Linked DNA regions of Homo sapiens. The protein of the gene in region 2 purifies or fractionates together with the protein of the main gene of each other region. This does not show direct contact. Each region holds a gene or a part of one and is shown on either strand. Other genes may lie near its edges.

Region 1 (7,733 bases), on a different chromosome or scaffold from region 2:
AAAGGAGACTGTATGGGAATATATTTCTTTTTTTTTTTTCTTTTTTTTGAGACAGTCTTGCTCTGTCACCCAGGCTGGAGTGCAGTGGCACGATCTTGGCTCGCTGCAACCTCTGCCTCCTGGATTAGATTCTCCAGCCTCAGCCTCCTGAGTAGCTGGGATTACAGGCATCCTCCAACACACCCGGCTAATTTTTGTGTTTTTAGTAGAGATGGGGTTTTGCCACGTTGGCCAGGCTGGTCTTGAACTCCTGACTTCAAGTGATCCACCCGACTCTGCCTCCCAAAGTGCTGGGATTACAGGCGGGAGCCACTGCACCTGGCCTGTTGGTGAATATGTTTCTTAGATCTATAAAGTATTTTGTCTTCAGATGTTCTTGCATTTATGATAGGAGCAAGGATCTCATAAAATTCTATTTGTTAAAATTCTCCCCCTATAATTTTTATGTTGACTCTTGTGATTTTTAACTTTTAAAAATTCCATCCCAAAAAATAATGAACAACTTAATTTTTGAAGAATGTGATAATAATTTGAACTACAAGTCAAAATTTTAAGTGCAAAGAAATTGTTTAAATAAATTTTGCAGTTTGCTTCTGTTAAAGCATCTCTGTTCTACCATATGTCTTTCATGTTAAACTTTCACAGTGTTTTCTTCTCAAATGTTGGTGCTGAGCAAATTCTAAGGCTACGGAAAAGCCTCTACTATCCAGAGAACTTGGATAGTGAGTCATCTTGAGGGACCAAGTTTTGAGTAGCCAAGAAGTAAGCAATCAAAAGCCAGAAGTATTTTTAATCTGTTTTAGAAAATGAGAAAAAAATGAGTCAGCCTTCCATGTTATATAAAAATAATTGAACATGATTTAACTCTTTCTCATAGTTTGACTTTTATTTGATGAAGATCAAGATGCAGATCATTTTGTGCTTCAGTTATTTTGATGAATGAATATATGTGATATGAACATAGAAAATGTGGACTATAGGACAGACCTGGTAATTAACAGTTGCTTTCCTTAAAAAGTTTGTATTTTCCTCCTCATTTGCCTCTTTCTCACTGATAGTAATATGGGTAGACGGAATAAGGGAACGTAGGAATGGCAGACCAGGAGAGCCTGTGGTAAACATAATAAGATTAGTTTTCCTTTTTCTTTTTCTTTTTTTTTCCTTTTTTTGAGATGGAGTTTCGCTCTTGTTGCCCAGGCTAGAGTGCAATGGCACGATCTTGGCTCACCACAACCTCCACCTCCTGGGTTCAAGCGATTCTCCTGCCTCAACCTCCCAGGTAGCTGGGATTACAGGCATGTGCCACCACGCCCAGCTAATTTTGTATTTTTAGTAGAGATGGGTTTTCTCCATGTTGGTCAGGCTGGTCTCGAACTCCTGACCTCAGGTGATCCGCCTGCCTCAGCCTCCCAAAGTGCTGGGATTACAGGAGTGAGCCACCATGCCTGGCCTTTCTTTCACTTTTTATTTTTGAGACAGGATCTCTGTTGCCCAGGCTGGCGCAATCTTGGCTCACTGCAACCTCTGCCTATCAAGTTCAAACGATCCTCCCACTTCGGTCTCTCGAGCAGTTGGGACTACAGGCATCCACCACTATGTCTGGCTAATTTTTGTATTTTTATTAGAGATGGGGTTTCACCATGTTGCCCAGGCTGGTCTTGAACGCTTGAGCTCGAGCAATCCTCCAGCCTCAGCCTCCCAAAGTGCTGGGATTACAGGCATGAGCCACCACACCCGGCCACTTTTCTTTTTTTATGTGACAGGCAAATCAGCCATGTGAGCAGTTCTGAAAGAAGAATCCCAAAAATGTTTTTGAGCAATGTTAGCCTTTAAAGGACACAGTCATTTTGGTGCTACATTCTGGTGAGTTGGTGGAAAACAAACCAAATGTGGGCTAATTACTTTATAGTTATAGCTTATAGTCAGTCCTTTAAAGTGATTTAAAAATGAATAAAAGTAAGAGGGTCTAGAGACCAGTATAGTTTTATATACTCATCTGTATTTTAGATTAAATCTATAGTGGATTTTTTTTTTTTTTTTTTTTAGACTAGGTCACTCTGTCACCCAGGGTGGAGTGCAGTGTCACAATCATGGCTTACTGCAGCCTCCAACTCCTGGGCTCAGGCGATCCTCCTGCCTCAGCCTCCTGGTAGGTGAGACTACAGGCTCATGGTACCGTGCCCAGCTAATATTTTTATATTTTGTAGAGATGGGGTCTTCCTCTGTTGCCCAGGCTGATCTTGAAGTCCTGGGCTCAATCTGTCCTCCTGACTTGGCCTTCCAAACTGCTGGAATTAGAGGCATGAGCCACTACGCCCAGCAGAAATTATTATTTTTGATAAATCTTGTTTATTTTCTTTTAAGGCTTAATATAGGTCTTCTCTTCATATTACAGTTTTTCTTCCTATTTGAATTACGTTCAGATATATTTGAGATGTTCAGATAAATTTGAAAATTAAGTTTATCTTTTATATTTGCCTTTTTATTAACAGAAATGGATGATGAAGACTGTGAAAGAAGAAGAATGGAATGTTTGGATGAAATGTCCAATCTTGAAAAACAGTTTACCGATCTCAAAGATCAGTAAGTAGTGACTTTAGAAGGCCATTGTCACTGAATCTCAACCTTGTCACTTGTATACTAGCACAAGAGCAACTAGATTCAGTCTCAGCTGTTTTGTATTTTATGCGACAGACCAATTTGAAAGAGGCTTCAACTATTGTTTGTCTACTAAAGACCTCATTAACTAAACTGAGGGTTTGGAGGCAGGGTTTTTTTGTGGGCTTGAACCCAGGAGTTGGAGACCAGCCTGGGCAACATCGGAAGACCTGGTCTCCATAAAATATTTAAAAATTAGCTGGATGTGGTGGTACGTGCCTGTGGTCCCAGCTACTTGGGAGGTTAAGGCAGGTGGATCAATTGAGCCCAGGAGGTCAAGGCTGCAAGTGAGCTGTGCTCGTGCCATTGCACTGCAGCCTGGGCGACAGAGTAAGACACTGTCTTAAAAAAAAAAAAAATTAGTTCTGTCCTGCAGGATTATTGCCAAAAATAAACACTGAGTTGTATCATACTCTAAAGGTATTGGTGACAGCTGGCAAATTAGAGTATTTGTAAGTGGCCTTATAAATAGGAGTAACAGGGACCTCCTGCCCCATTTTTGAGTTCCTTGTTCATTGAGCAACTAATTTTGTTATGGCTTCTTCATTTGTAGTTGAGACAAACTTAGTATGTCAGGTCATAAAAACATTGGTTTTACCTTCATTAGTCTACTTCCTCTTTGCTCTTTTAAAAAATTAAGTAGGCTGGGCCGGGCACGGTGGCTTACGCCTGTAATCCCAGCATTTTGGGAGGCTGAGGCGGGTGGATCACGTGGTCAGGAGATCGAGACCATCCTGGCTAACACGGTGAAACCCCGTCTCTACTAAAAAATACAAAAAAAAAAAAAAAAAAAATTAGCCGGGCGCCTGTAGTCCCAGCTACTCGGGAGGCTGAGGCAGGAGAATGGCGTGAACCCAGGAGGCGGAGCTTGAAGTGAGCGAGATTGCGCCACTGCACTCCAGCCTGGGTGACGGAGCGAGACTCCGTCTCAAAAAAAAAAAAAAATTAAGTAGGCTGAATACAGTAATACTGACTCCTTTTCAGGAACGGTAGAGAGAAGCCAAGTAATTATTTATTTTGACAACTGGTAATGTCTATTCAAAATGATTTCTTTGTTTCTTTTAAACTCAGTGTTTAAATGACCTTTTCTCTTAGAATTGGTTTTATTGTTCTGTGGTTAAAACAAAAACAAACATTAATAGTGCCAAAAAGTAGTTATTTCAATTTTATTTTTTTGTATTGGGAATTGACCATTAAAGAGTGATAGATAGATACCTGTTTTGTGATTATGTGCATAAAGTCAAATAATGTAACTGAGTTCTCTGCTTGAGATCAAGGCAAAATATATTTGATAGATTATTAGAATATAAATGATATTGGGAACAAATAATGTATAGAAATGGCAAATTGTTAGCCTTTGTTGAGATTTTTAAATTAACATATTAATTTTTGCTTTGTTAAGACTTTATAAAGAACGATTAAGTCAGGTGGATGCAAAACTACAAGAAGTCATAGCTGGAAAAGCACCAGAATACTTGGAACCGCTGGCAACTTTACAGGAAAATATGCAAATTCGTACAAAGGTAGCAGGTAGGAAAGTGAAGAATCTTTTCCATATATAGAATGTAAACTCTTCAGTAGCTTTAAAAGGTGTTTATCAAGTAAGTGTTTTATGTTGATGGGATTACAAGCATATTTACATCGACCAGAATATTTTACTTTTAGTTAGCCCACAGTTACTGTATTTATTGAATACCTCTTGCTTTGCTCTGCTGCTGTAGGGGATTAAAAAAAAAAAAAGCCCTCAAGTTGTTTACAGTGTTGTTGAGAAGATAGTTCCACATTTGGTGAAACAACTGGAAACCATGATACTTTCATTAAGAGAGACTGTTACTATCACATTTTAATTCCCTATTAGATAAAGTTTAAGTGTTCTAGGCATTTTTTTAATACGTAAAAGTGATAGGATTTTTTTTAATTTATAAAAAATTTTAAAAATGTTTGATCAGGATATTATAGAACAGGAAACTTGCCTTGAACTAGATGATTTAATTTTTCCTTTTTACTTTGATAAGTTTGGTTACTCATTTGTGGCTACAAATAAACAAAGATGCACTATATTTGTATGGTTACATTTCAGTCTTATGTTTGTAAATAGGATCCAGCCTCAGTATCATGTCCTGGCACTCATAATCAAGGGATATATATATGATTTTTCATAGTCAAAAACTAAACTTTAATTAGTGGAGATGCTGGTTGTTTTTCTCTTATGTGGCACTAATTGACCCTTATGTACCTGTTAGATAATACCTAAGGCATTGTTGATAATAAGTTCTTTTTACTAAACCCTCCTTTAACCAAATTTTATTTTTGAGTGCTTAATATTATGTAGATGATATGATACTCTTCACTGCTATCTTTACATATTGACAACATACCCTTAGAAGTAAAAATATCCCTAATTTTCTTTGTTCTTTTAGATTACATGGATGATCAGGAAATATTACTTGAGTCGATTATTTACTTTTCTACTCTGGCCTCTTTTATATTTTGATTTTGCAGAGTAGTGTGTGTGAATGTGTTGCTGATGACGTAGTTCCAGATATCTGTCTCTTGCCTTTACTATACAAAGAGAGATAATTACATTTCTAGGGCCAACTATGGCATAAAGCTTAGAATACATATCCAGAGCTCTTTGCGTGCCGTTTTTGTAGTGACATATTTGCATGGCCATGTTACCTATTTTATACTATTGTCCTGTTAGGGTCTAAGTTAAACTATCTTGGGTATCCATCCTCTAGATAAAGTCCTGTCAGGAGCACTCCAGACATAATTGATTTTGTTATATCAGTTTATATACATTTACTCCTCGTGGATTCTTTGGATTGAAAATGATAGTTAAAAAAAAAGTGGTTTTGGTGGGGTATAGTATCTAGCTGTTACTCTGAGTATATGTGATTGATGACACCAGAGTTTATTATCTCCATTTCTATTTTGAGAAACTTGAGAGATTGTTTTTCACAGGAAAAGAGTTTTATTTTCATTTTGATTATTCTGTATCAAACATTTAGGAGTAATCTTTAGAAGAATAGATTAAGAACAAAAACTAGCAGTACAGTTTCTTTCTAGCTCTTATAATTTCTAATCTTTTTGGATATATATTTTAAGTGAGCCTTTTATTTTTAGTCTTTAAAGACAAAGTTAGACTCACTTTTCAATTTTTTCTTGATCCATCTTATTAAATACAGTGAGGACAGAATTCCTGTAGGGAAGTGATAATGGAACTTCTCATTGCTAACATAATCAGAGTAATTGTGTTTGGTTGCAGGAATCTATAGAGAGCTCTGCTTAGAATCTGTAAAGAACAAATATGAATGTGAAATTCAAGCTTCTCGCCAGCATTGTGAGGTACTGTCATTTTGCATAACTTTTAAGCTAATTTCATCTCTTCAAGCCTTTTCTGAGTGTAGTAGTTAAAAAAGTAAACTAAGTAAAACAATATTAAATAGTACTTTAGCTCATCATTTGTGTGTGATTAAAAAAAAAAAAGAATAGAGTTGCATTGGAAGCTGTATTGGAGATAGGACACAAAGAAAGGACCATAGAAAAAAACTGAGATAATTTTAGAAGTTTTGCAGCTGTTACTTTAAAAAGACTTTGCAACGATTATGTCACCTGGCATTACTGAAAATATTAGTATAATTAGTATAATGTGGATTAGATTTGCGAAATATACACTCAATGGTGCAGTTAGGATGTTGGGCTATAGAATTAGTTTCTGTCTGTCTAGACCTATTTCCACATCTTTGGGCAGAATTCTCTATTTATGGGAAAAAAAATAGGTATATTTTTCTGTATATTCTGTTTATTTTGCATTTAACCCATTTATGCTGAAGGTTGCAATTTTTTTGTGTGTGTGAAAAATCAGATCTTGGTGATGACCTTGAGCAGTAGGATATAAATAACTCCCACAAGCTTAACATTCCAGTAATGGAACACTAGGCATAAATGGGTTAAAATATTTATAGCATTTAAAAAACATAGTGCCCAGGCATGGTGGCTCACACCTGTAATCCCAAGAGTTTAGGAGGCTGAGGCGAGAGGATTTCTTGAGCTCAGGAAGTCAAGACCAGTCTGGGCAACATAGTGAGACCCCCCACCTCTACAAAAAATAGAAAAATTAGCTGGGCATGGTGGCAGGTGGCTGTAGTCCTAGCTACTCAGGAGGCTGAGGTGAGGGGATTGCTTGACCTTCGGAGGTTGAGGCTGCAGTGAGCTGTGATTGTGCCACTGTTCTGCAGCCTGGGTAACAGAGTGTCACCCTGTCTCAGAAATAGCAACTACAACAACAACAAACAAAAAAACCCCATAGTGCCCGTTTTGCAGATAACTTTTTATCAAATCTAGACAAGATTATAGATATACAGGTAGAAATAAGAGGACAAGTTCTATAACGATTCTTCTGTCACTTTAATGTGCCGTAAACTAAGAGTAGTTAGGTATAAAAATGATAGAGCTCATTGTTTCATTTTCATAATTACAACTGAGATTGATTATCTTTTTGGCGTTTACTAGCTGCTTGGATATTTTTTCCTAAGAAGTGCCTATTTGTATTTCTTGCCTTTGTGTTGGCTTTTAGTCTTTCCCTCATTGACTATATAAGTTCTTTATATATTCTGGCTATAAATGCTTTGCTGGTTGTATGCTTTGCAAATCTTTTTGCCCAGGTGGTACGATGTTTTCACTCTTTCTGATGACTTGCTGCAAAGAAGTTTTACATTTTAATGTAGTTGAATTTATTATCTTTTTATTTATGGGATGTGTTTTGTTTTCTTTTGTTTTGAGACAGGGTGTCACTCTGTCACCCAGGCTGGAGTGCAGTGGCATGATCATGGCTCACTGCAGCCTCTACTCCCCTGGCCTCAAGCCATCCTCCTGCCTCAGCCTCCTGAGTAGCTGGGACTACAGATGCATGCCATCACACCCAGCTAATTTTTAAAATTTTTTGTAGAGAAGCGGTTCCACTATGTTGCCCAGGCTGGTCTCAAACACCTGGGCTCAAGCAGTCCTCCTGCCTTGGCCTCCTGAAGTGTTGAGATTACAGGTGTGAGCCAAGGATGTGCTTTTTGTGTCTT
Region 2 (7,693 bases):
TTTGGCTTAATCTTAAAACAGACTTCAAGTTGACATTTTATATCATGGAACTTGAGAGTTAAAATGAGAGAGCTCCTTGGGGAGCACAACTCATTCATATTAGAGTTGTGAACTCTGCAGAGATCAGGGGACTTAACTAGTGTTCCATGGCTAATAATCCCCACAGTATGATTCAACTCAAATCTCTGGAATCTCAATCCAGCGTTCTATTTATTGCCTCTCAAGTGCCAATATGAGATGACTAAACTGATCAGGAAACAACAAAGACAAAATTGCACCTACTGAAATAGTAAATATGTGTTACATAAATAAGAAGGCAATGCTATCATTTTAACACTCACTAAAAAAAAAACCTAAGTCTTTGAGAGGTATTGTAAGGAACTAGTATTTTGAAAGTACTGTGTGTTTTGAAAGAGAGTTTAAGTTAATTGCTCATGGAAGAAACATTTATCTGGGTGGAGATTATGCTTGACTTAGACAGGCTTTCAGCCTGAAGGTTGTAATAGATGAGTTATTCTCTTAACCTTAATCTATTTTTCATACGGTGGGATGACAGTCATCAAATGAAATCATTTTTAAGTTTCCCAGAACTGTGGAAAAACTAAGCTAATCTTACTTTCATAAGCTTTTTAAAGGGCAAAATTTTACTTTTACTTTTAAAATAATTTTTAAAAGGAGCTACTAATCTCAACAAATCCAACTATTAAAGTTTCACAGGGACAAAAAAGAACTACCACCAGTGGGTACAAATTTGTTATATGTTTTGTTCTGGCTATGGTTACACCTCTTGATTTTGGAAACATGATTATTTTGCTGAATCTTAAATTTTAAAAAAACACTGAACATAATGTCAAATTGAGCCTGATTTTCTTCCTTCCTTCCTTCCTTCCTTCCTTCCTTCCTTCCTTCCTTCCTTCCTTCCTTCCTTTCTTTCTCTTTCTTTCTGATACATGTAAAAAAAATGTTTTAGTTATCTTTAGGGCTCAGAACTCAAAGGTTTAAGAATCACTGGAGATCTGAAGAAACCAGACAGGAGCCAGCCAGCTACTATGTGTTTAGGGAGTGATGCTCACTCCAAAGCCTACTCTCGTTCTTCCGCAGCAGTGCTTCTCAAACTTTGACCAAAGCACGCGGACAGTAGGGGAGAATGGATTCTATCTGCAGGAAGAAGACAGAGTCCAGGGCTGCGAGTTTTCATTCAAAGTTCACACTAAACTTCACACTATTCTTATGTCTGTTTTAATATAAAGAAATACGCTTTGAAATGCACATTTCTTTATACTAAACCTCCAGCACCTTCTACCCCTCCTTTTATTTTTCCCTTACTTTTTCATGTAGACACTTAATGCCTCCACAAAATCATATTGTTCACTTATCTTCTTTGATTATTGTCTGCTTCCTCCCCGAGGGAGGGTTATTTTGTTCGCTGCTGCACGCCAGCACCAAGAACAAGACCTGGCACTTGTCAGGACTCAACAAATCCATGCAGAATGAACGATGAAATGTTTTAGATGAGGATGTGTTCAATCCAACTGTTCTGGAGGGGCTCCTTCTTTATCCCATGGCTCAGAGGCACATTTCCTCATTCTGAGTGGCAAGCGCTCCCAGTTTTGGAAGAAAAAAATGTGTTACACTTAGGGAATGTGGGGGAAAGAAGCAGCAATGACTCTTCCCCACTTGCTTGGCATCACAAGATACTTTTTGACTTCTGAGCCCATGTCATGCATGTAGTGTGTCATGTGCCCACATCATGAGATCTTTTCTTGATTCCTGATGAGTTAATTTGATTTTATTCCCACTAAGTGTCCTCTGATTTAATGAGGGTGGTCTTCAGTGGCCTGCACTTGCCTAGACAATGCTGCTCTCCCTGCCTGAACAGATCCTTCTCATCCCTCAAAGCCCAGCTTGGGTGAAACCTCTTTTTTGACATTAGCCTTCATTTAATGGTTTGAAAGCCAAGGCCAGGTCTTTTTTTTTTTTTTTTTTTTTTTTTTTTCCCATTCAGAGGCAGCCTTTCCAGCAATGTGGGGCCAGGGAATGGATGTCTATGAAGTCTATTGAAGTGGCCTAAGAGAAACAATAAGCTGATTTCAAAGCATATACAGCAATTTTAAAAGAATGTACAATAGTGTATCATCTTTCACTAAGTCACAAATGCCAATCACCAATTCATTTAACTCTGTATTTCCTCTAGGTTCTCAGGAAAACATTTACTTTCTTTCATCTATAGCAATTTTAGGCACAAAAAGCTACATGCTTGGCCTGACCATGGTCCTCCGATGACAAGTTGTTGGTCTTTAAAAGCACATTTTGCTAGTTACTGACATTACTGAGCTTACTTAAAAGAGAGCTACCTTGTTATTCTCTGAGAGTATCCCAAGCCACCTTGTTTACCTACCATTACAATGTTTAGTATGATAAGCCCGCATATAAACCCTAGCTTGTCCCAGGCACTCTTGTAAGCTGATTGCATTTATTCACTCATTACTCTGCAAAACAACTTTACTACTATGATCCCCATTTCACAGATGAGGAAACAGGCACAGAAAGAGGATGAGTAAAAGTAAAGCTGGTAAGTTCCAGAGTCAGGATTCGGACCTAGGTGCTCCTGAGACCATGTGCCTAACTACTAGCCAGCTTGCCTCACACCTTTGTCCTCCTCCACCTCCTCCATACCTGTCTGCCCACCCCTTGCCCCGATCTTTCCTTTTCATGGCCAGAGAAAGATCCTGCTGCCTCACTCTAAAATCATCTCCCAAATCAACGAAGCTAAATTTCTTCCAATTGGGATGAAACCACCTTAATGTTCTTTCTTAATTCTTTGCACACTCTAGCTGATACTGATTATTCACTTATTGGCTAGCCCCTGCTATTCCATGCTTTGATCAGACACACCCATCTCTTAATGTTCTGTTTTCTTCTCTCTGAATTCCTGAACAGAATATTTACAAATATAAAGTCCAACAAGAAAATGGTGTGATCTAAATGGGGTTTCGGAAACATAAATCTGGTGGTGGCATCTGAGGAGGGAAAGGGAGGGTGTGTGGGTGAGAAAATGGGTGTGTAGAACTGTTAGAAACTTCCACTTTTGAAGTCACAAAATGCTGTAAGAGCTTTGGGAATGGAAAGGAAGGGGTGGATTCAAAATGCATTTTAGAAAGAACAATGGGTTGGACTTGTGGGCAATTGCCTCTAGGGATAAGGTAGAGAAGGGAGTTAAAATGATACCGCTATTTTGGGCTCAAATGATTATAATGAGAGTTTCATCACCTGAAATAGGTACATCAGGAAGCTAATCTGATTCAGGGAGAACAAAAAGTTCATTTTAGAATCTTTGTCATCATCCCTGTTCAACAGTTGGAAGCCACCATAAGTGAGCATTTAATGAGCCCCATTCAAGTGTCTAACAGAGCATATGATGTTAAATGTCCAACAATAATTAACTGAAGGTGAATACACCTTTTATTCTGGCCCCACGGAGGTGCCTACCAGGGTATTTGATGCGTAAGATCCTCCCCAGCCCTCCTCTACAGGGATGGAATTGGGGGTATGATTTGAATGTAAGAAATACGACTTAAGGCCGGGCACGGTGGCTCACACCTGTAATCCCAGCACTTTGGGAGGCCAAGGCAGGCAAATCATCTGAGGTCAGGAGTTTGAGACCAGCCTGGCCAACATGGTGAAACCCTGTCTCTACGAAAAATACAAAATTAGCATGGCATGGTGGAGCGCGCCTTTAATCCCAGGTACTCAGGAGGCTGAGGCAGGAGAATCGCTTGAACCCAGGTGGCGGAGGTTACAGTGAGCCCAGACCATGACATTGCACTCCAGCCTTGGCAACAAGAGCGAAACTCCATCTGAAAAATAAAGAAATATATATAAATAAAAATTAAAATAAATAAAAGAAGAAATACCACTTACTACATAGCCTAACCCCACGCAATAGCAAATATATTTTCTTTATCACACCTAAAAATCGTCAGAAAATGGCAAAATTAGTCATGTTATGTGCTTGATTTCCAGATTTGGTCTTACTTCATATTAATTTCTTAAGTAACCAACTCAAACGATCTTGAACTCCCACCCATTTGTTTCTTCAAAGTCCTGAACAATGCCAGAAGAGAGTCTACAGATCAGACAGTGCAAACAGAAAGCTTCTTGGAATTCAGCCATTAAAATCAGGCACTCAAGGTAGAATAGCAGGAGTAAAAGCTGAAAGACCTACACACTCAGCACAGAGCCAAGGCAGCTCAATCGCAGGGCCTAGAGTGGTGCGTTCAAAGAGTGTGAGATTGGTAGACAATCGCTCATGAAACAGTGTTTCGAAAATCTAAGCGACTCTGATGATTCATATTAGGAATTCATCCCAAACCTCAGATTGGTACACCTTCCTTGATTTCACACAAGCTCAGGAGTAGCTGCCATGCACATCAGTGTCCATTAAAATGACTTGTAGCAAATCTCTACGTTCAAAGTCTAACTTTGACAGACAACCTTACTTCCAGCGAAGTCTACTCCCCTCCCTCCGGAGGGAAGAATGGGCTGCGGTTAAGCGTTTGCCCTGGTGTCAGGGCCAACTGCTTCGAAGCGCCAGACTTTCGGAGACTGTGGGTAAGAGAAAAAAAAAATCCAGTCCGGGTTTTGTCTGAGCGGGGGGACCGGAGGGTTGTGAGGAATGGCTCGCGAAGAGGGGGGCGGTGGTGGAAAACATACAACACAAACAGCTCGCGCCGAGGCACGGCAGCGGTAGGCCCGGAGCGCGCGGGCGCAGCCGGCCGGGAGAGGCGCGCGCGGGCTCGGCCGCCGGCCGCATGGAGCGCAGCGCGGCCCGCGGCTCCCGGGCGGCGGCGGCGGCGGCGGAGGCGGCAGCGCGCCGCTCGCTCACACCCACCCCCGCCCGCGGCCGCCGCGCCGCCCCGCCGTAGCCGCCGGCCGCCGGCGTCCCCGCCGGCCGGTCCAGCGAAGGCGGCGCCCGCGCCTCTGCAGCCAGTGGCAGCCGCGGGTCCTGGCCGGCGGCTCCTGCAGCCCCTTGCGGCCGCGAGTCCCCGGCCCTGCGGCCACCGGCGGAGGCAGAGGAGGAAGAGGAGGTGACAAACTCTCCGGCCCCGCGCCGCGGCCCGCAACCCCGCGCTCAGGCATGCAGGCGCGGCGTCTAGCCAAGCGCTCCAGCCTGGGCAGCCGCCGGGGGGGCGCCGCGCTGCAGCCTGCCGGGCCGGCGCCCGCGCCCGCCAAGGAAGCCGCCCTACCCGGGCTCCCGCCCCCTGTCCCGGGCCCGGCCCCGGCGCCCGCCCCGGAGAGCTGGAGGCCGCCGCTGCCGCCGCCGCCGCGCAGCGCCGGGACCGGCCCCCCTCGGGCCACCGGGGCCGCCGCCGCCGCCTCGTCGCCGGTGCTGCTGCTTCTAGGGGAGGAAGACGAGGACGAGGAGGGCGGGAGCAGGCGGCGGAGGGGGCTCGGGCGTGTGGAGGAGAAGCCCCGAGGGGGCGCGGAGGAGGAGGATGACGACGAGGAAGAGGAGGACGAGGAGGTGGTCGTCGAGGTGGTGGACGGCGACGAAGACGACGAGGACGGCGAGGAGCGTTTCGTGCCCCTCGGACCCGGCCACGCAGTCCCCAGGGGCCCGGCCCGGGGCGCGTTGAAGGTGCGTGTTGGGCGCGGTGGCGCGCGTGGGACCCGCCAGCCCGGGGAGGGGGACGGGCCCGGGCCCCGGGGCAAGGCGCCTGGCCGAGGACGGTCAGCGGCGCCGGGGAGAGACCCGGCCAGGAGGGGTGTGTCAGGCGGCGCGGGCGGCCGCGCGGGGCAGCGCGAGGAACTGTTGATTTGCCTGCGCCTTGGGCCCCTGCGTCTCTCCCAGGCGGCGGCTCCCGCTTTCCTCAAAGGCCGTGTCGGGTTTGTTGTTTGGTGTGGGTGCCGGGAAAGGGCGCTTCTCCCCAGTGAGGTGGGGAACTTGGGTGATGGGACCACGGAGGCGCCGGTTCGTGCCCGGTGGGGACGGGTGAGGCAGGGGAGAGTGAGATTTTATTCTCCCCCAAGGAAGGAGTGTCCCCTTCTCCTTATTTTGAGGGCTATTCAAGCTTATTGAAACCAGAAAGCGGTGTTTCTTGTCAATCTCTCAGCCCCTTCTTCCAACCAAGAACAATTGTCGATGAGTTTCCATCACAGGCGCTTGTGAGAGAACCGGTAAACCCAGTACAGCAAAATCCAAGCCCTTGGTTTCCACATGCATTTTGCTAGCAGTTTTTGGCATTGACCCTCGCCCTCCCGTGTTTCCACTCGACATCATTTAGCGTTTGAGGTTTTTTTCCCTCCTCAAAATTGCAAATGAGAAAAAAAGAGGAAACCAGGAAAAGGGGGTGGGGGGTAGCATTTAAATTGGATGTGAGTTTCTGCTGAGAATTCTAGCGAAGTCCCCTGTACACTGAAGCGCCGAGAGATTTTTCCGTTTGTGTATCTTCAGGAGATAAGGGGTTTATTATTACACAACTGACTGGTTGGGCTTTCAGGCATGCTATTGGACAAAGCAAACCACGTTGAGATTCATGCACGGTGTATGTTGCTAAGAAGTTTTGAGGGCAGCAAGTGGTAAGCAATGGAGTGAGTGATTTTTCTCAAGAGTGGTTCCTAAAATCAGCTGAATAACATTTTACCAGAGTTTTCAGAAGGTATTGGTATTTCAGGAAGAAAAAAAACTCATGAACAGCTGAGCTTAATAGTTAGAGACCACTAAAAAAAGCTTTGGGGGCTCACCAAAAAAAGCTCCTCAAAGCTTGAAGTTGCATTTCCAAAGAAATGTTGAACATCGGCAATTAGAATAGCCCCAGAGTAGATGTGGGCAGAAATTTATTTCCTAGACCACCCTGGAAGTACCAGCTCTGGGAGTGAGAAATTTTCAGCAAGTAGTTATTTGGGATGATAGTTTTTGACAGCTGCTTGTTGAAATCCAAACCGTGACCACATTCATTACCATGGTCTGTTGAAAAGCCTGCATTGTATGGCTACAAGATATAGCTGGGTTTGAAATGAAGTCACATGGTGTCAGTGACATTGAATATCAAGAGTAGTGACTCCTTAGCATTTTTGTCCAGAAATACTGAAAGTGTGTCCTGTGGTTTGAATAGTGATTGCACAATTTGTGATAGAAACAATAATAATTTATGCTCTGTGATGAAAACAAGCTTAATATAGGGAAAAAATCAAATCCGTAAAAACAGAATAATGAGTGTGATAATTCACTTGATCAGTAAAGGTTTTTCACATCTTCAAGTAAATTTCCTTTAAATTCTTTCAAAATGGGCTTCATTTTATAACACTCTCATTTGCCCACAACTTCAGAAATTTACACAGAATGTTGGAGTCATTTGAGGTTTATCTTTTAAATTACTCTTTTAAAGACACTGTATCTGAAGAGATTTTCTAATGGAATATCACTAGATAATTTTATTATAATGCATATACGAATGTTAACCTCTTACATATATTCATGCATTCATTTATTCAACAAATATTTATTGAACACCTATTATGTGCTAGCAGCTATTCTAGAACATAGCAGTGGACACCTTCCTGATGCTCACATCTAGTGAGAGGCATCATAGCAACAATCAAATACATAGATGCAGATGTACATGCATAAGCAAGAATAACACTTCAGATTGTGGTGTGTCCTGTGAAGAAAATCATGATATCTTAGAGTTTC
Region 3 (7,921 bases), on a different chromosome or scaffold from region 2:
ATATATAACAAAGTGCCACCACACAGTTCAGAGTACTTACACCTGCATAGCATATTTTCGAACAAAGTTCATGTCTATTCCATTTGCTTAGCTCGGCATCTAAGCAGATTTCTTAAGAACCTCATTTCCCTACAGGAAAAATAAGGAAACTGGTTCCCTCAGACACATAAAAAATTGAGGATTAAAAAAAAAAGAGGCAAACCTCTTTTCAAATATTTTGTACCTAATAATCAGGTGTTAGAGGCTAAGTACAGTATATATCATACCAGCACATTGATAGATGAGATAAAAAATTTGTAAGATACCGTATTATATAGTGAAAGAAGACAAGAAATTAACATTTACTCAGCCCCTTCTATGTGGTAAAGATTTTCTCAGTTAATCTCCACAGCAACCCCATGAGGAAGCCATCACTTCTGCTTGTGAAAAAAACTGCAACTCAAGAGATAAGAACCCCAGACTTTGAACTGTGCCAGATCTGTATGTCTGACCTCGCAGTGTAAGCACTTTCTATAAACTATATGAAAGGCACTTGAAATTAAGTATCAAAGTTTAGTTTGAAGGTTGTTATTTATCTAAGAAATTATGAGTGGGAACACTAGAATAAAAATAAAGGTTCTCTAATAACCCTATCCCATAATAAGTACTTCAATTGTGAAATTGTTTTCTTCTTTATTTCTCATTTTATAAGTTTTTCAGCAGTTCTGAAAGTGTCTCAAGTAGGTTAGAAAGAAATTTGACTGCCTATATAATTTATATCACTAAATATTGCTAGAAATATTAGATCCAAAACCAGAAAATACTTAAGCACTAGTGAAGATATAAAAAACATGAAATCTGAACCCAAAATATACATAAACATAAAACTGTGAAAGTTGAGCTCAGTAACCACGTGCAGAGTGAAAACTAGATGAGTTTTTAATCACTAATCACAAACTTCATAGAGCTAAGAATTTGTATAATCTCTCAATCTTGTAAGGCCTACTATATTACTAATGTTACCAGAGCTATTAATACCTGACAATTATAGATGATCCGAAAGATTTCCCTGTCAACAAATTATAGTATCCCTCACCAACTTCAAATAGCTTAACTCTTGTGAAAGGAAACATGTGCCTTCAAAGAAATGTAAAAACCTGCAAGCTTGCTGGGCGCGGTGGCTCACGCCTGTAATCCCAGCACTTTCGGAGGCCGAGGCGGGCGGGTCCCCTGAGGTCAGGAGTTCAAGACCATCCTGGCCAACATGGTGAAACTCCGTCTCTACTAAAAATACAAAACTTAGCCCGGCGTGATGGCAGTTGCCTGTAATCCCAGCTACTCGGGAGGCTGAGGCAGGAGAATCGCTTGAACCCGGGAGGCAGAGGTTGCAGGGAGCTAAGATCGAGCCACTGCACTCCAGCCTAGGGGACAGAGCAAGGCTCTGTCTAAAACAACAACACAAACTACAAGCTTTACAAACTTTGGTGTTATCTGAAAAACTAGAAAGGTTCCATATACAATTATTAAGCACGTATCATTTTTAGGTTACCATTCATGTTTGTGCTCCATATCTGTAGAAATCCCCTTGGACAGTTTTTATTAAAACTTAAATTGTTTGAAAACAAAGATATGCATCTACAGTAGCAGGCTCTGGAGCCAAATATTCTACATCGAATTAACTGGACGAGTTACTTGAACTCTTTGTAATCTGTAAAAGAAATATTTATATAATGGTCTGGACCCAGCGCATCAGTTTTAATTCCCTCCCCACCCCCTCCCCAAACACGGATCAGTCCTATGAATCCTATGGATTCAGAAAACAGAAACAAATTTATAAACTAAAAAACATCAGACACTTATGTCACCCAAGAAGTGGATTCCTTAGAGACTTTTAAAGTATAGGATTACTGGCGTGTCTACAAAAACAGAGAATGGGTCCAGGAAATTATCTTTAAAGTTCGTATGGCTGTTTCCATACTATGTTCAAGGTCTGTTCCTCGATTCAAGGTTATTAAGCGCAACACATTTCCCCTTTTAAACTGCCCTCCTAGTAGCACCACCGATAGTAGGTGGTAACACTGTAAGGAAGGTCGATTCTGTCCCGGGTTCCCGGGTCGGCCGGCAAAGGGTGGTTTCGCCTCCACACTTAAAGTCGGAGAAGGAGGGGCTCGGGGACGCCAGGCGGTTGCCCAGTCAACCAACCCACTTCCTCCTGAAGCCCGGAAGTGACACATGTCCCGGAACCTACGCGGAGCCAGGATCCGCGACGGTCCGAGCTGCTGATCGCCGTCCTGATCCATTGACTGGGAAAGAGGTTGGAAACATCACCGCAAAACATGCTGCAAACCCCGATTCGGACTCCGCTGGGGCCGAACCAACGCCCCCGCACAGCCCCGACTCCCTCCCCAGCAGCCAGCTCGCCACCGCCCCTCTCGCGACCAGCCATTTTCCAGGCCCGCGGGAACGCGCGCCGCGCCCCTCCCACGCCCCTCGTCAAGCCCGCAGGCCCCGCCCCCGGCGCGGGGGCCCTCCCCGCCACACACGCCCCTCTCTTCCTCTCCCGCGGGGGACCCCTCCCCTCTTAACCATTTTGCCGAAAGAACTGGGCTAGGGCTACAACGCGGGGCGCCCGCGAACTTTCCCGGGGCGAGAGAGCGGAACGGACTGCTCTCCTCCGGGCCGGGGCAGGAGCGCGGAGGAAGGCCCCCTCAGTCCGCCTCCGCGGCCTCTCGCCCCCTCCCCCCGCACGTTCCAAAGCACCCGCACTCCGGGGTGGGGGCGAGTGAGGTGGGGAAGCGCGCCCCGCAGACCAGCGGGAGCCCGGCCGCTCACTCCCTCCGACCCTTGCCCGGCTGCAGTCCCGGGCCGGGGCCGCAGGGTCTGCGGCACGGGGCGGGCCAGCGCCTGAACAAATGCTTGCTGCTTAAAATGGCTGATTCCCCTCAGCGGCAGCTGCAGCCGCTGGGTCTGCAGCGGGGGCTGACAAGCGGCCCCCACCCCCACTCTGGGGACCCCAGAGAAGTACTCGCCCACCGCGGGGCCACGGAGGGCCGCCAACCCGGTCTCCAGTCCTCCCAGTCCCGCTCGGCAGACCCTCGGTGCGCTCGGGGAGACTGTCACGGGAGAAAGGGAAGGTGGCACTCCCCCGGACAGGCTCCCCGCCACCGGCTCCCGAGGCCGGCAGCCCCGCGGCTCCTACCTTGATATTTGTTGTCCAGCTCTCGCAGCACAGACACGTTCCTCTGCATGTCGTGGGGCAGCGACTCCACGCACTCAAGGTAGTCCTGCACGTAGCAGGTGAGCAGCCGGCTCCGCTCCCCGGTCAGGAGCGCGGCCGACGAGTACAGTTGCTGCTGCTGCTGCCCTAACATCCTGCCGATCCGCGCCGTCGCCGCCGCCTCCGCATCCAGCAGCCGCACATGCACCGGCCGCGGCCGCCGCGGGCCCTCAGCTCAGCAGCCCGGCGCCGCGGGGACCCCGCAGCCGCTCGAGAGGGCACGGCCGCGCTCCCCGATCTCCACTCCCCCCAGAGCAGCCCTCACTCCCCGCCCCCGCAGCACCAGCCCAGGGGCGGGGCGAAACCGGGGCTCCCTCCTTTCTCCCCTCCCGCTCCAGGACCGGAGCAGTGGGGATCCCCTCGGCGGGGCCGGCGCCGGGGTCCCGGGCGCTGACACTTCCTGTCCCCCTCGGAGTCCCCAGATGCTACGAGTGCCGTCTCGCAGCCCGGATCCCCATGACAAGCCCGTCGCCGCCCGCCTGTCCCCAGTCACCCTCCGTGCCTCACGGAGAGCCTCCCGCTAGCCTGCCCCCGCCCCTCCGCCCGCGGCCGCCTCTGCGCCTGCGCAGCGCTCCCTGCGAATAAGGCCGGGGCCCGCCCCTACCGCCTACCGGAGGGTTCGCATTCTCCCGCCTTCGCTCCGCCGCCCGGGCGATTGGTCTGCCGGCTCTGGGCTAGCGGGGGAGGGTGTGGGGGGCGGCCAAACGGCAGGCCGCGCCCCGCCCCCCTTAAAGGGGAAGCCCGGGGAGCCAGTCTCTGCGCCTCGCGTCTGAATGGGACCCGGGAGGGGAGGCGGCTCGGTCCTTCGTGCCGTCCTCCCCGCTGGGAGGGGCAGCTCCAGCTCCGCTCGGCTCGCTCCGCCCGGCCACACCGGCTTTTTCCCCATCAGGCGGTCCGAGTGCGGCTCCTCGCGAGCCTGCAAAGGAGCAGCAGGCGGTTCCTTTTCGGACGACCTGGAGCGAGGCCTGCGGGACTGCGCGCCCCGGCGGGCGGCGTGCGGCTCCCGGCATGCGCGGCGGCTGCGTTCCCGCCGCCTCCGAGCTCGCCTGGGGCTGCCGCCCGCCTCCTGCCGGGCCCTCGGGCTCGCCCGGCACCGCGGGGCTTGATCAGGGAGGTAGGCGGTGCTCCCTCCGGCCCCCGGCGTCGTGTGCCCTGCGGGTTTCGTGGCCCTTCCCCTACGCTGGAATCTTCTGTGTCATTTAGGGGGAGGGGATGCGGGACGGCATCTGTTTGACAACGCATTGGTCCCACAGACAGCCTTTAAAAACAACTGCTTTTGGGGGGTGTCAGAACATTTAAGCACAGGACGTCGGTGAGGCTTCCTGGCGGAGTGGGGCACACGCCAGCTTTACGGGACTTTTTGCTCAGTCCTGCCCCAGGACTGCAATCGGAGGGGACCTGGGGCATGGAGGAGACGCGAGTGAAAACCTAGTCAGCGGGCGGGCCCTCGGCCCCATAATCTACGTGATCTCCTAGTGGGGTTTAATTTCGGTGTAGTGTAAATGAGATGTCAGGCAGAGGAGCTGATTTTAATTACAGATGGACATTTTTGAAAGAAATGGGTGCAAATAGAATGAATGCATGGATAATTTTAATGGAATGCCTATGTAAACAAGGCCAATTGTGAGTACTACCTTTGAGTTAAAATGTGAGTGAGTGGTGACAAATTTGGATCTTCTTAGATCCAGTTTGCAGCGTTGGTACACCTGAATGGTGACCTATTTAGAGCACTTTTGAAACAGCTGTTAATAGTAACTAGCCTTTGACTTGCAAAGAGAAATCTAGATCTTTATCTAGAGGAAATTTTAAATTTCAAACCAAAATAAAGCACTCCAGGCAATTTGACATCTTGGGACGTCAACTATTTCAAAGGACTGGGAAATTGTCTTGGGTTATTATCCTAGGACACTGAGGTTTGGGCCAGTATTAAGCAACCCAGACAGTACAGTGGATAGTATTTCTGAGAACATTCTGGGATTTTACTGTTCGTGAAATCTTTCGGCCGGGTCTTGTCAAAAAACCGCCACTGTGAAGAACTGAATTTTACTGGTTTTTACTTGAACCCTGCTATTTTTGTTTTCTCACAAGTTTGAATAAGCTGGTCTTTATCAAAGGCGCAAAATAATGTGGGGTGCCTTGTTACAGGTCAGACACCGAATGTACCTATGGATTTTATTCAGTCTGATAAGTGATCTGCAAGTAGATAAGAAATGTGTTTAGAAACTAGAAGGGGAAAAAGGCAAAGATGCAGAATACCTAGAGTACTCCAGAAACAGAGCAAGATGAGAGGAGGGATGAGCATGGGATAGGAGACATTTATAGCATTATTGTCACCTTTTATAATTCTGTTGAACAGGCTGGTAAAAAAGCAAAAACAATCCAAAGAATATTTTAGCTGGTACTGATCTAAAACTGTAAAACACTGTAATATGATAATATATGTATATGTATGAATTATTTTAGGCATGCTTTTCTTGCTATATTTATTTTAAGAGATTAATCTACGGCTTATTCTTGCCACCCCCAAAAAAAATCGCCACAAACCCTAAACCCAACTCTTGACCTTGGTTATTGAGCGCTGTCCTTCCCTTCTGAGTGGTCACTTAACTGGAAATATGGGGCCTCTTCAGATTGAATTTCTTGTCTTCTAAATGCAAAATTTAAAATCTCCCGTTCTCAGCAACTAGAAATTAATTTATGGTATTTAATCCTGTGAATAAAGCAAAAAGGCATTTTATTTGCTCTACAGTGTATTATCTACCATAAAGCAACCCTAAAAAAAAGATAAGTAACTGATCTCCCCAAATTAGTCTGGGATTACCTTGAATTTCTAAGTCTGACTTTAAGAGGTCCCTGGCAGGAAATGTGTACGCCTCCGTACCTGTCTCTTGGGGAGAGCAACAACTTCAAACTGGTTGAAAACAAACTGGCAAGTAATGGTGAAAGATTCCTAAAGATGCCTGCTGAGAAAATTCAGCTTCTGTTTGAGTCAGATCAAATAAATGAAATCCTTTTCTTTTTTCTACTTTTTAATATTTTTAAACTTTTATGGAAATTTTCAAAGGCAAAAGTAATACTACAATAAATCCTTATATACCGTCTACCCAGCTTCAACATTTAGCAACATATGGCTAAGATTATTTAATCTATAGCCCTTCACATTCCCTCACTCTTGCTGGATTTTTATCATTTTATCTGTAAATACTTTAAATATGAATAATATGAATAGGTAAAATATAATAGTTGTTTTTTGTTTGTTTGTTTTTGAGACTGAGACTTGCTTTTGTCGCCCAGGCTGGAGTGCAATGGGGCGATCTTGGCTCTTTGCAACCTCCGCCTCCCAGGTTCAAGCGATTCTCCTGCTTCAGCCTCCCAAGTAGCTGAGATTACAGGTATGTGTCACCATGCCCAGCTAATTTTTGTATTTTTAGTAGAGAGGGGGTTTCACCATGTTGGTTAAAGCTGGTGTGGAACTCCTGACCTCCAGAGATCCGCCCGCCTTGGCCTGCCAAAGTGCTGGGATTACAGACGTGAGCCACCATGCCTGGCCAAGATAACAGTTTTTTAAGCATATCCGTAATACCATGTATTCTGCCTCCCCAAATTTTCTTACTATCATTTAATAACTACACAATTCAAATTTTCCTATTGTCTCAGTAAATCTTTCACATTTGGTTTAACAGGATCCAGCAAATCCCATGCATTTTATTTGGTTACTGAGGTCTTTTCCAAACCAGTAAGAGGCAGTTAATTCCCTGTTTAATTCAGTGAAGCAGAGAGCAATGTTTTTCTGAGGAAGATATTTAAGTAGTTTAAAATCACTGCTTTAAATATGGAGAAATTCAAGAAGAAATCCTCATATGAAAAGTCACCAATTGATAGCGTGTTGTAAGAAATGTAATTGTACCTGATGCAAATAAATAAATCCTTAGTAATCTAGGAGGCTGTGTTAGAGTGTAATTTGTTCTAGAAGGTCCAGTGAAGCATCTTAAATTATAGTGAAAAACCCTAAAACTTTAAATCAATTCATTAGTACAAAAAGCAACTAAAGAAAAACCTAATAGTCCTGTAATCCCAGCACTTTGGGAGGCCGAGGCGGGCGGATCACGAGGTCAGGAGATCAAGACCATCCTGGCTAACACGGTGAAACCCCGTCTCTACTAAAAATGCAAAAAATCAGCTGGGCGTAGTGGCGGGCACCTGTAGTCCCAGCTACTGGGGAGGCTGAGGCAGGAGAATGGCATGAACCCGGGAGGCGGAGGTTGCAGTGAGCGGAGATCATGCCACTGCACTCCAGCCTGGGCGACAAAGCGAGACTCCGTCTCAAAGAAAAAAAAAAAACAAAACCTAATGGTGTGCGTCTCCACTGAACTCAGTTTTAAAGCATTAAAGCATTTTTTATTACTTTATTACATAAGTAATACACATTATTGTAGAAAAAATTTAAATAGAAATAAAAAGATATATAAAAGTCACTACAAACTGGAGATAACTCTTCTCAATATCTAAATATACTCCAAGATGTAATTCCATTTTAGCAGTTCTTTTGCTTTAAGAAAACACTTTGGCTAGGATTGAAGTACAAAGTTAGGCCAGGTGTGGTGGCTCATGCCTGTAATCCCAGCACTTTGCCACGAGGTGGGCAGATCACCTGAGGCCAGGAGT
Region 4 (8,576 bases), on a different chromosome or scaffold from region 2:
TTGGGAGGCTGAGAACGGAGGATTACTTGAGTCCAGGAGTTTGAGACCAGCTTCGGCAACATTGTGAGATCCCCTCTTTACAAAAAAATTTAAAATTAGCTGAACATGTGGCTGGGTGTGGTGGCTCATGCCTGTAATCCCAGCACTTTGGGAGGCCAAGGAGGGTGGATCACTTGAAGTCTGGAGTCCGGAGTCCGAGATCAGCCTGGCCAACATGGTGAAACCCTGTCTCTACTAAAAATGCGAAAAAAAAAAAAAAAATTACCCAGGCATGGTAGCGCATGCCTGTAATCCCAGCTACTCAGAGGCTGAGGCACAAGAATCACTTAAACCCAGGAGGCAGAGACTGCAGTGAGCTGAGATCGCACCACTGCACTCCAGCCTGGGCCACAGAGTGACACTCTGTCTCAAAAAAATTAAAAAAATAAAAAATAAAATAAAATTAGCTGGGGAGCCCAAAAGATCGAGGCTGCAGTGAGCTGTGATTATGCCACTGTACTGCCGCTTGAGTGACAGAGTGAGACCCTATTGCGCAAAAAAAAAAAAAAAAAAGCCTCAGCTACTGGTTTGAGCAATGAGTAGACAGTGGTATCATTTACCATAAGGAACACCAGAATCCAGTGGTGAAGAAAAAGGAATAGAAAAGCATTTATTTCACTTTGCAATGTCATATATTTACTTAATACATAGAGAAAAAGAGTATTTGAAGGAATTCCTCAACTTCAGCACTGCTGACTGGACTGGATACTTCTCTGTTGTGGGGGGCTTCCCATTACCTTGCAGGATGTTAAGCAGTATCCCTGGCCTCTACCTATCAGATGCCAATAGTACTCTTTAGTTGTGACAACCAAACTGTCTTTAGATATTGCCAAGTACTCCCCTGGAGGAAAAATCACCTCCCCAAACACCTGTCACTGAGAACCACTAATTTCTACCACTCAAAGGGTATAAGACTAAAAACCAAGTTTTATCTATGTGTATACAATCAGCCCTCTGTATCCATGGGTTCCCTGATGTGAATTCAACCAACTTTGGATGTTAAATATTCAGGGGGGGAAAAAAACCCTGCTTGCATCTGTACTAAGCACATACAGACTTTTTTCTCTTGTCATTATTCCCTTAGCAATACAGTATAACAACTATTTACATACCATTTACATTGTAGGAGGTATTACAAGTAATCTAGAGATGATTTAAAATATACTGGAGGATAGGTATAGGTAATATGCAAACACTATACCATTTTACATCAGAAAGTGGAGCATCATGGATTTTGGTATCTAAGGTGGGTCCTGGAAACAATCCCCCACAGACACCATAGGGAAACCGCATATCCTTTGTTTTCCACTTCTTTTCCTAGATAATAAACCCCTAAAAGACAAGATCTGTTCCTTAAACACCTCTGGGCTCCCTCACAGCACTAATGCTATACTCCTGGACATTAATTAAACAAGAATATATTAATGCATTTCAAAAACAGTTCTTACAGGCACGCTTTGCTATAAGTTGCATGTGTACTCTATGTGAATGAAGTGGTTAAAACAGGAAGGAAAAAAAGCCTTGTTTAAATTAGAATAGTAATATACCCTTTCTTCAAATTCAAGAAACAAGAATTTACTAAAATCCTAGAAGAATCTGCTAATTTTTAAGTTAGAAAACTGGTAATATTCTTAAAGTAGGAAAAAATATATTAGAATATTACATATCTCACCTGTAGCAGCTGGGTTTATCAATCCAGCAGAACCACTGTTTGCAATCTGAGAAGGGGCCTGGCTCAGCCCGGTAGAAGGGGCTCCTAACCGAGGAAACTGTTGAGAACTCATTTCCACCTGTAGTACATACAGTTATATGGTTATTACTAGATTCTGAGATCTGAATCAATACTGAGAAATTAAAGCATCTTTAGTACCTATGAGATAGTCCCTTGGAAAAGCAAATGCTGCATCATTTATTTAAAAACAATAACTTGGGATCAATATAAATGCAGACATTATCTAAACTACCTAAGTTTTCTACAAATATTGTTTATACGGAGCTGGCGGGTACTATGACCCTCCATAAATACTTGTGGATTGCTATGCTAAAAAAATCACCATTGAATCCTGTACAAGAGTCACATGACAGGTATTACCACAATGCATGTGTATTTCTCTGTGTAAAGTTTTATGGAAAATGGCATGTCTCTTTGAAACACTCAAATCTCACACCAAGGTGAACAGAACTGTGATTAGTATGTCATAGGAACATTCGGAGGAAGATATCCAGCCCTAAGAAAAGATCCGATATCTTACATCCAGACCCGATGCAAAAGGAATTCTCCAATGCTTTTCGGCAAAGGCCTCCATTTACGGATTTCCTTTTCCTTCTCTTCCACAGATCCCCTCACAGAGCCAGAGGACCCTACACCTTCTCCATCTTCCCTAAAATCGCCCCCCACTTTTCCCTCAGGAGCCAAGCGATCTCCCGATTCGCCCGCAACCCCACCCCACCGCGAAGCCCCCGCTGAGACCGGAGGACGCCGGTTTCCAGACACCTCGGAGTGTGAGACCCCCGTCTCCGGGGTGGGGGTGCGGACGGGCGATCTGGGGACCCGACCACAAGACGAGCACTGTGCCTCTTTACCTGTAGCCGCCGCCCGCCGCCCGCACCGCCCGCTTCTATCTCGCCGGCCTGGGGGTGCCGCGGAGGGCCCATCTCGGCGGCGGCGATGTGCTCGGCGGGCGCGGGGAGGGATCGCGGCGGCGGCGCCCGGGGCCCGCTGCTGTCCAGCCCCGCTGGCCCCACTCACCCCCGCCACCCGGCCGCCGCTGTGCTCGCAGTCCTCTTCCCCCGAACCTGCCCCTGCCTCCCCCGCCCGCCCATTGGCCCCACGCCCGACGCGTCAGTGGAGGCCCAGGACCAATCCACAGCGACCTGCACGTTCAGAGCCCGCCCCACCCTCCCGCCGACTGCCAGCCAATCAGGCGCGAGCCTGGCCGGGGCAGCCCAAACCCCTCGAGGCTGAGCCAATGGCAGAGGAAGACAGGCGCCCCCGGCGAAGGGGGCGGGGAGCGGGGAGGCCCCGCCTCAGCCAGGGTCTGAAAGCGGCGGGCGCAGGGCCCGGATGTGGAGAGTCACTTTAAACTGCTCCAGGAGCCAAACTCCCTGGGCCGGCCGCCCGCCCGCCCGCCCGCCCGCGCTCCCCCGGCCGCTCTGCTTCCCCGCCAAGGCCCACGTCCGCCACGCCCCCACGCCCGGGTCAGCCCACCCCTCCCGGTGCCTCTCCCTTCCTCGCCACAGGACACCCAGCCCCTGTCGCCGGCCCAACCGCCGTGACCAGCTCGCGAAAGAGCCGCGGTCCGAGCCGCAGGAGACGAGGATCCTCTGCCCTTCCCCGGGGACGCGCAACGGGACGGACGCTGCAGCCCGGCTCAGCCGCCCCGCCCCCTCGTCTCCTCCCCTTCCCTCCCGGGCGCCCGTCCCGCCATTACCTGGGTGCTGCGCCCAGTGGCCGCCGCGCCGCCTTGAGCTCGCTCCCGCGCGCTCTCCGTCTGTGGGGCCGACGTCCCCAGGCTCCGGACCCGCAGCCACCGCCGGGGAGCTAGCACTCTGCCCCCCACCCCTCACTCCAGCGCCGCTGCTTCCGCCGCCGTAACGAGCCTCCCGTCTATTGGCTGGCGCAGGCCCCGCCCCCTGCCGAGTCAGCCAGTCGCCGGTGGTCGTGAGCGGGAGAGCGGACGGGCCCGCCCCTCTGAGCCGCGGCGTCCTGTGGGAAATGTAGTCGCCGGAGTCAGGAGGGCGGGCCGCGAAGGAGGTGGAGAGCGCCGGGGCGGGGCCGCAGGCGACCCGGCCAGGGCAACACACCCCTTTGCTGTCTGAAGTCGGTTCTGCCTTTTCTCTTGGCTAAGTGAGAAGACAGTGGATCCCACCCTATGCCTTAACCTGAGGGCACTGGGTTTCATTTTCCCCGCGGGGAGGCGCGGCGCGGGAAAGGGTAATGGAGGCCAACTGCGGCGGCCAAGGGATCCGCGGGCCGGGCCAGTGTCGTGACGGTGCCCGCCTCCCTATGCCGCGAGTGGGACTCGGTGTCCCCACCGGGAACCGCGGTCGGCACAGCCTACGCGCGGCGGGAGCCGCCAGGCGCAGCGCGGGCGCGGCTCTGTGAAAGCAGGCCGGCAGGGCGCAGGGCTCTGGGCGGCCGGGGCGCACCTGCGCGCGCTTTCCGGATTATAAAGGAGCTGAAGGGGGCAGTTTTATTTTGTCATTTTGCTTGGGGTTCAGGGTTGGAGTTTATGCACCTGTAGAAGACTTAGCCATATCTTTTGAGGCCACATTTGTGTCTGATAAGAGATTAAGTCTCCCTCTTCCCTTACCAGATGGTAATTTAGGCCTGGAGTTTTGTGATTAGTTAGGAAATAAATGGGGCTCAAACCCCCCTCTTCCTATCATGCACAGCTGTGTAAGACAACTGCTTGGTTAGAAGAGAGTAGCTCCTGGCTATAGCCCAGGGATGAGTCTCAGATACTCCTCCTCTTCAAGCCACTTTCCTTTTCCACCTTCATGCCTTCATTCTCAAACTTCTAAAGAGTGACTCCTGTGATAGACTTCAGCCTCCTCTCTGCCTAGGCAGTCCTTATCCCTTTTGGAGTTGCCACTCTTCTCAGACTGCTCCCCAAAAGTTGCCAACACCTACTCAACTTCAAACCCATCGGTCCTCACTTAGATCTCATCTTGTTTAGCTTACTGACCAGTAGTAATTCCTCCTCATGTCTTCCCTTGGCCTCTAGAACCAGGCTGTCTCCTGCTTCTACTCCTATGTCAAGCTCCATTATACCTCCTCTTTCTCATAAATACAGCATTCTTCAGGGCTCCAACACGCTAATGCTATACTGCCTTCCTAAATGGTTTAATGTATTTCCACAGTTTCAAATGTCATCCTTTTTGTTTTTTGTTTTTTTGAGACAGGTTCTCAGTTCAGCCCAAGCTGAAGTCCAGTGGCGTGATCACAGCTCATTGCAGCCTCGACTTCCTTGTCTCAACTAACTTATTGCCTCAGCCTCCTGAGTAGCCAGGACTGCAGGCGCATGCCACCACACCCCACTAAACATATATATATGCCAGGCACGTGGCTCATGCCTGTAATCCCAGCACTTTGGGAGGCCGAGGCAGGCGAATCACCTGAGGTCAGGAGTTCGAGACCAGCCTGACCAACATGGGAAAGACCCCATCTCTACTAAAGATACAAAATTAGCCGGGAATGGTGGCAAATTCCTGTAATCCCAGCTACTCAGGAGGCTAAGGCAGGAAAATTGCTTGAACCCGGGAGGCAGAAGTTGCTGTGAGCCCAGATCAAGCCATTGCACTCCAGCCTGGGCAACAAGAGCGAAACTCTGTCTCAAAAATATATATTTATATATGAATACATATATTTTATATATATAATATATATTTTTGAGATGGAGTTGTATGTATATATATGTATATATGTATATATATGTATATATACGTGTGTGTGTGTGTGTGTGTGTGTGTGTGTATATATATATTTTTTTTTTTTTGAATAGAGACAGGGTTCCACCATATGCCCAGGCTGGTCTTGAACTCCTGGGCTTAAGCGATCTGCCCACCTCAGCCTCCCAATGTGCTGGCATTATAGGCATGAGCCACTACACCCAGCCTCAAATATCTTTGAAAATGTTACCTATGCATAGGTGACCTCTCCGAGTTGTATACCTATATTTCCGCCTGATGGGCCAATCCACACAGAAGTCTTAACAAGCCCCTCAAAGTTAATGTATTGAACACCTTTATTGGTTTGCCTCCCCTGTGTACTCCCCTTGATACCTGGGTTTACTTACTGGCATCACCATCCTTTCTGTCTTCAGCTTCATATATGTTCCACACTCTTCCATCTCCCACAGCCGCCATATTACATTGATATGCACCTCTGCCTCCTTTTCTATTGTTTCCATAGCTGTGGCTCAAGCTGCCATTATTTCTTATCTGAATTGCAGCAATGCTGCTGCCCCCACTGAAATCTCTTCCTACACCCACTATGTCCTCCAGAATTCTTTTTCTAAATCACTAATCTGGATCTATCCTTCCCATCCACGATGTTTCCATATCTTCGGAATATATTCCAAATCCCTATGCCCATTATCCAAAGGCCTTAATAATTTAGTCTCTCCTGCCTCTCCAGACACTGGATACTCTGCCAACAACAGTTTCTACTAGTTATCTGCGCAGTTTGGCTTCCAGCATTTTGCTCTGGCCTGAAGTGCCTTCTAATAGGCTAGGATGCTCAGCAATCATCTAGAAGAGTTCTGCCAATTCTATAATGCCTAACCGGAAATAAAACTGTTTCTCTTCGGCAAGAAGCCTTCCTCCAATTCCTCTCTTTTCCCCACCCTCTAGAATATTTCCATAGAACTTCCTCAGTACCTCTCTTACAGCACTGATCTGTGTCTGCCCATATTCCTCCTGGAGTAGGCAAACAGAGAAATTATTTGTCTTTATATCTCCTGTCAACAGGGTTTTAGATCCAGGAAGCATTCAATAAATGTTTGCTAAATATAATCACAAACACATCGGCGTTACTATATGATTGAAATTGGAGTTTTCCTGAGTTACTTGGGACAGTAGCTATGGCTTTATTCATCCATGTCTCTGGTCCTGCACATAGTGGACACTTAAAGGAAAACAGGTGCTTCACCCATCTTTTATCACTAGGGTTTAGAATTCCCATCAACTGAACTTGGTGTGCAGAAAACACACCTTGTGCCCCAGCCAGACTGAACCTTCTACACTCCTCAAGTATTCAAGCCCTATGCCAGTTTCAGGAGCTTACTAGTATTTGAGGTTCTTGAAAATTGGCCAGGCGCGGTGGCTCACACCTGTAATCCCAGCACTTTGGGAGGCTAAGGCGGACAGATCACTTGAGGTCAGGAGTTCGAGACCAGCCTAGCCAACATGGTGAAACTCCATCTCTACTAAAAGTACAAAAAGTACAAAAATTAATCCCAGCTACATGGGAGGTTGAGGCAGGAGAATCATTTGAACTTGGGAGGTGGAGGTTGCAGTGAACCAAGGTTGCACCACTACACTGCAGCCTGGGCGACAAAGCAAGTCTCAAAAAATAAAAAAATTAAAAAAAAGTGTTGTCCACCCATGATCTTTTGAATAGATTAAGCAGATATACAATAGGCATCATATCTGCTCGGTGATTTTCTAGAGAAAAGCAGATTCTCCACGTGAGTGTTCTGTGGAAGTCAGTCAGATGTCAGCGAATGGTCCCTGAGACTTGGTGATGTGATTGAAACCACTTTTGCAAAATCGTGACAGTGAGAGATATCTAACATAGTTGACTCCATCCTACTTCTGACCTCCACGCTGTCTTTGGTTATTCCTGGGTATAGACTCAGCTATGTTTCACAATTTATAGTTTAACTTGAAAGCAAGGATGATAATAGTCCCTTTCTAAAACTAACCCCCTCCTTGCTTGGGGACCAAAACCACCTTTGTAAACCAACGAAAGACCACAAGAATAGGATTATGAGAGGGGCCTGAACTCTGCTAAAAAGTAGTCAGTTTCTATAATCCTTTACTGCTCAGGAGTCATGTGGCCAGAGGTCTCAGATTTATGACTTCCCCAGTTGCTCCTATAGATAACATCACTGTTGTAAAGATTTTTTTTTGAGATATCTTTCATACTGATCCGATCTGAACTCGTGACTCATGGCTCTACTGGTCCTGTGGCCCTACCTAGAGGCAGACTCAGCACACGAGGAATGTCTTCCACACCCCTATGGTTTCATCCCCAACCAATCAGTAGCACTCATTCCCTATCCCCCTGCTTACCAAATTGTTCATAAAAACCCTAAGCTCTGAGCCTTCAGGGAGACTGGTTTGAGTGATAACTCTAATTCTTCCCTGTTGCCCACCTCCTGTCAATTAAACACTTTCTCTGCTGCAATGCCACGGTCTCAGTGGATTGATTTTGTCTGTACAGTGGACAGGAAGAACCCACTGGGTGATCCAACACTTTGTTGCATTTTTTTCTCTTAAAGAAATTTTTTTTTAAGAATTCCAGGGCAAACTGGTGGTAGTAGCCTGCAACTTTTTATTGAATAGTACTGCTCCTTGTGGAGCAGGGCTAACTCATAGGCAGTATGCCCAGTCAGCCAGGTAATTACACTTTGGTGGGCCTCTTTACCATCGGACCCAGACGGTTCTCACTTAGTCACTGCGTGAGCAGTCTAACGATACTGACTCTCTGCAGTTGCCCTCTGTCCAAATACTCCCCTTGACTCAACCTCCCAGTCAAGGAAAGCCTAGTTTCTTCCAGGTCACTTGTGTAACATGAGCATAACCTTATTTATCTCCAGCTTGTTGTGTAGATTAAATGAGCCATACACATAAAGGATGTGTTGCTTTTGAGCTTGCCTGTATCCATCGTTTTTACAACTTCCATCTGTTTATTACCCTGGGCAAACTCAAGAATCTCTCTCTTCCTGGTATCACATTCTATACCACTGTCCCCACCCCAGCAGCACCTATGCCAGGTGTGGCAGGAGACTCTAGGATGGTCCCGCGTGATC

The links.
Region 1: the proteins of ZNF704 (region 2) and BRMS1L purify together in Homo sapiens (co-immunoprecipitation; 3 studies listed by BioGRID and IntAct, with this or other methods). This does not show direct contact.
Region 3: the proteins of ZNF704 (region 2) and ING2 purify together in Homo sapiens (co-immunoprecipitation; 3 studies listed by BioGRID and IntAct, with this or other methods). This does not show direct contact.
Region 4: the proteins of ZNF704 (region 2) and SAP130 purify together in Homo sapiens (co-immunoprecipitation; 3 studies listed by BioGRID and IntAct, with this or other methods). This does not show direct contact.

Annotation. Positions count from the first base shown.
Region 1 is NC_000014.9:35,828,918-35,836,650, forward strand, and holds part of BRMS1L (breast cancer metastasis-suppressor 1-like protein), read left to right. Parts: intron 1-877; exon of another isoform or gene 878-990; intron 991-1,763; exon of another isoform or gene 1,764-1,863; intron 1,864-2,492; coding exon 2,493-2,583; intron 2,584-4,060; coding exon 4,061-4,188; intron 4,189-5,926; coding exon 5,927-6,006; intron 6,007-7,733. UniProt on the Homo sapiens protein: Involved in the histone deacetylase (HDAC1)-dependent transcriptional repression activity. When overexpressed in lung cancer cell line that lacks p53/TP53 expression, inhibits cell growth.
Region 2 is NC_000008.11:80,871,489-80,879,181, reverse strand, and holds the start of ZNF704 (zinc finger protein 704), read left to right. Parts: upstream 1-4,400; 5' UTR 4,401-4,611; intron 4,612-4,713; exon of another isoform or gene 4,714-5,137; coding exon of another isoform or gene 5,138-5,638; intron 5,639-7,693.
Region 3 is NC_000004.12:183,500,625-183,508,545, reverse strand, and holds the start of ING2 (inhibitor of growth protein 2), read right to left. Parts: upstream 3,489-7,921; 5' UTR 3,351-3,488; coding exon 3,179-3,350; intron 2,449-3,178; exon of another isoform or gene 2,280-2,448; coding exon of another isoform or gene 2,228-2,279; intron 1,696-2,227; exon of another isoform or gene 1,536-1,695; coding exon of another isoform or gene 1,529-1,535; intron 1-1,528. UniProt on the Homo sapiens protein: Seems to be involved in p53/TP53 activation and p53/TP53-dependent apoptotic pathways, probably by enhancing acetylation of p53/TP53. Component of a mSin3A-like corepressor complex, which is probably involved in deacetylation of nucleosomal histones.
Region 4 is NC_000002.12:128,024,470-128,033,045, forward strand, and holds the start of SAP130 (histone deacetylase complex subunit SAP130), read right to left. Parts: upstream 3,591-8,576; 5' UTR 3,471-3,590; intron 2,838-3,470; exon of another isoform or gene 2,695-2,837; coding exon of another isoform or gene 2,623-2,694; intron 1,830-2,622; coding exon of another isoform or gene 1,824-1,829; coding exon 1,712-1,823; intron 1-1,711. UniProt on the Homo sapiens protein: Acts as a transcriptional repressor. May function in the assembly and/or enzymatic activity of the mSin3A corepressor complex or in mediating interactions between the complex and other regulatory complexes.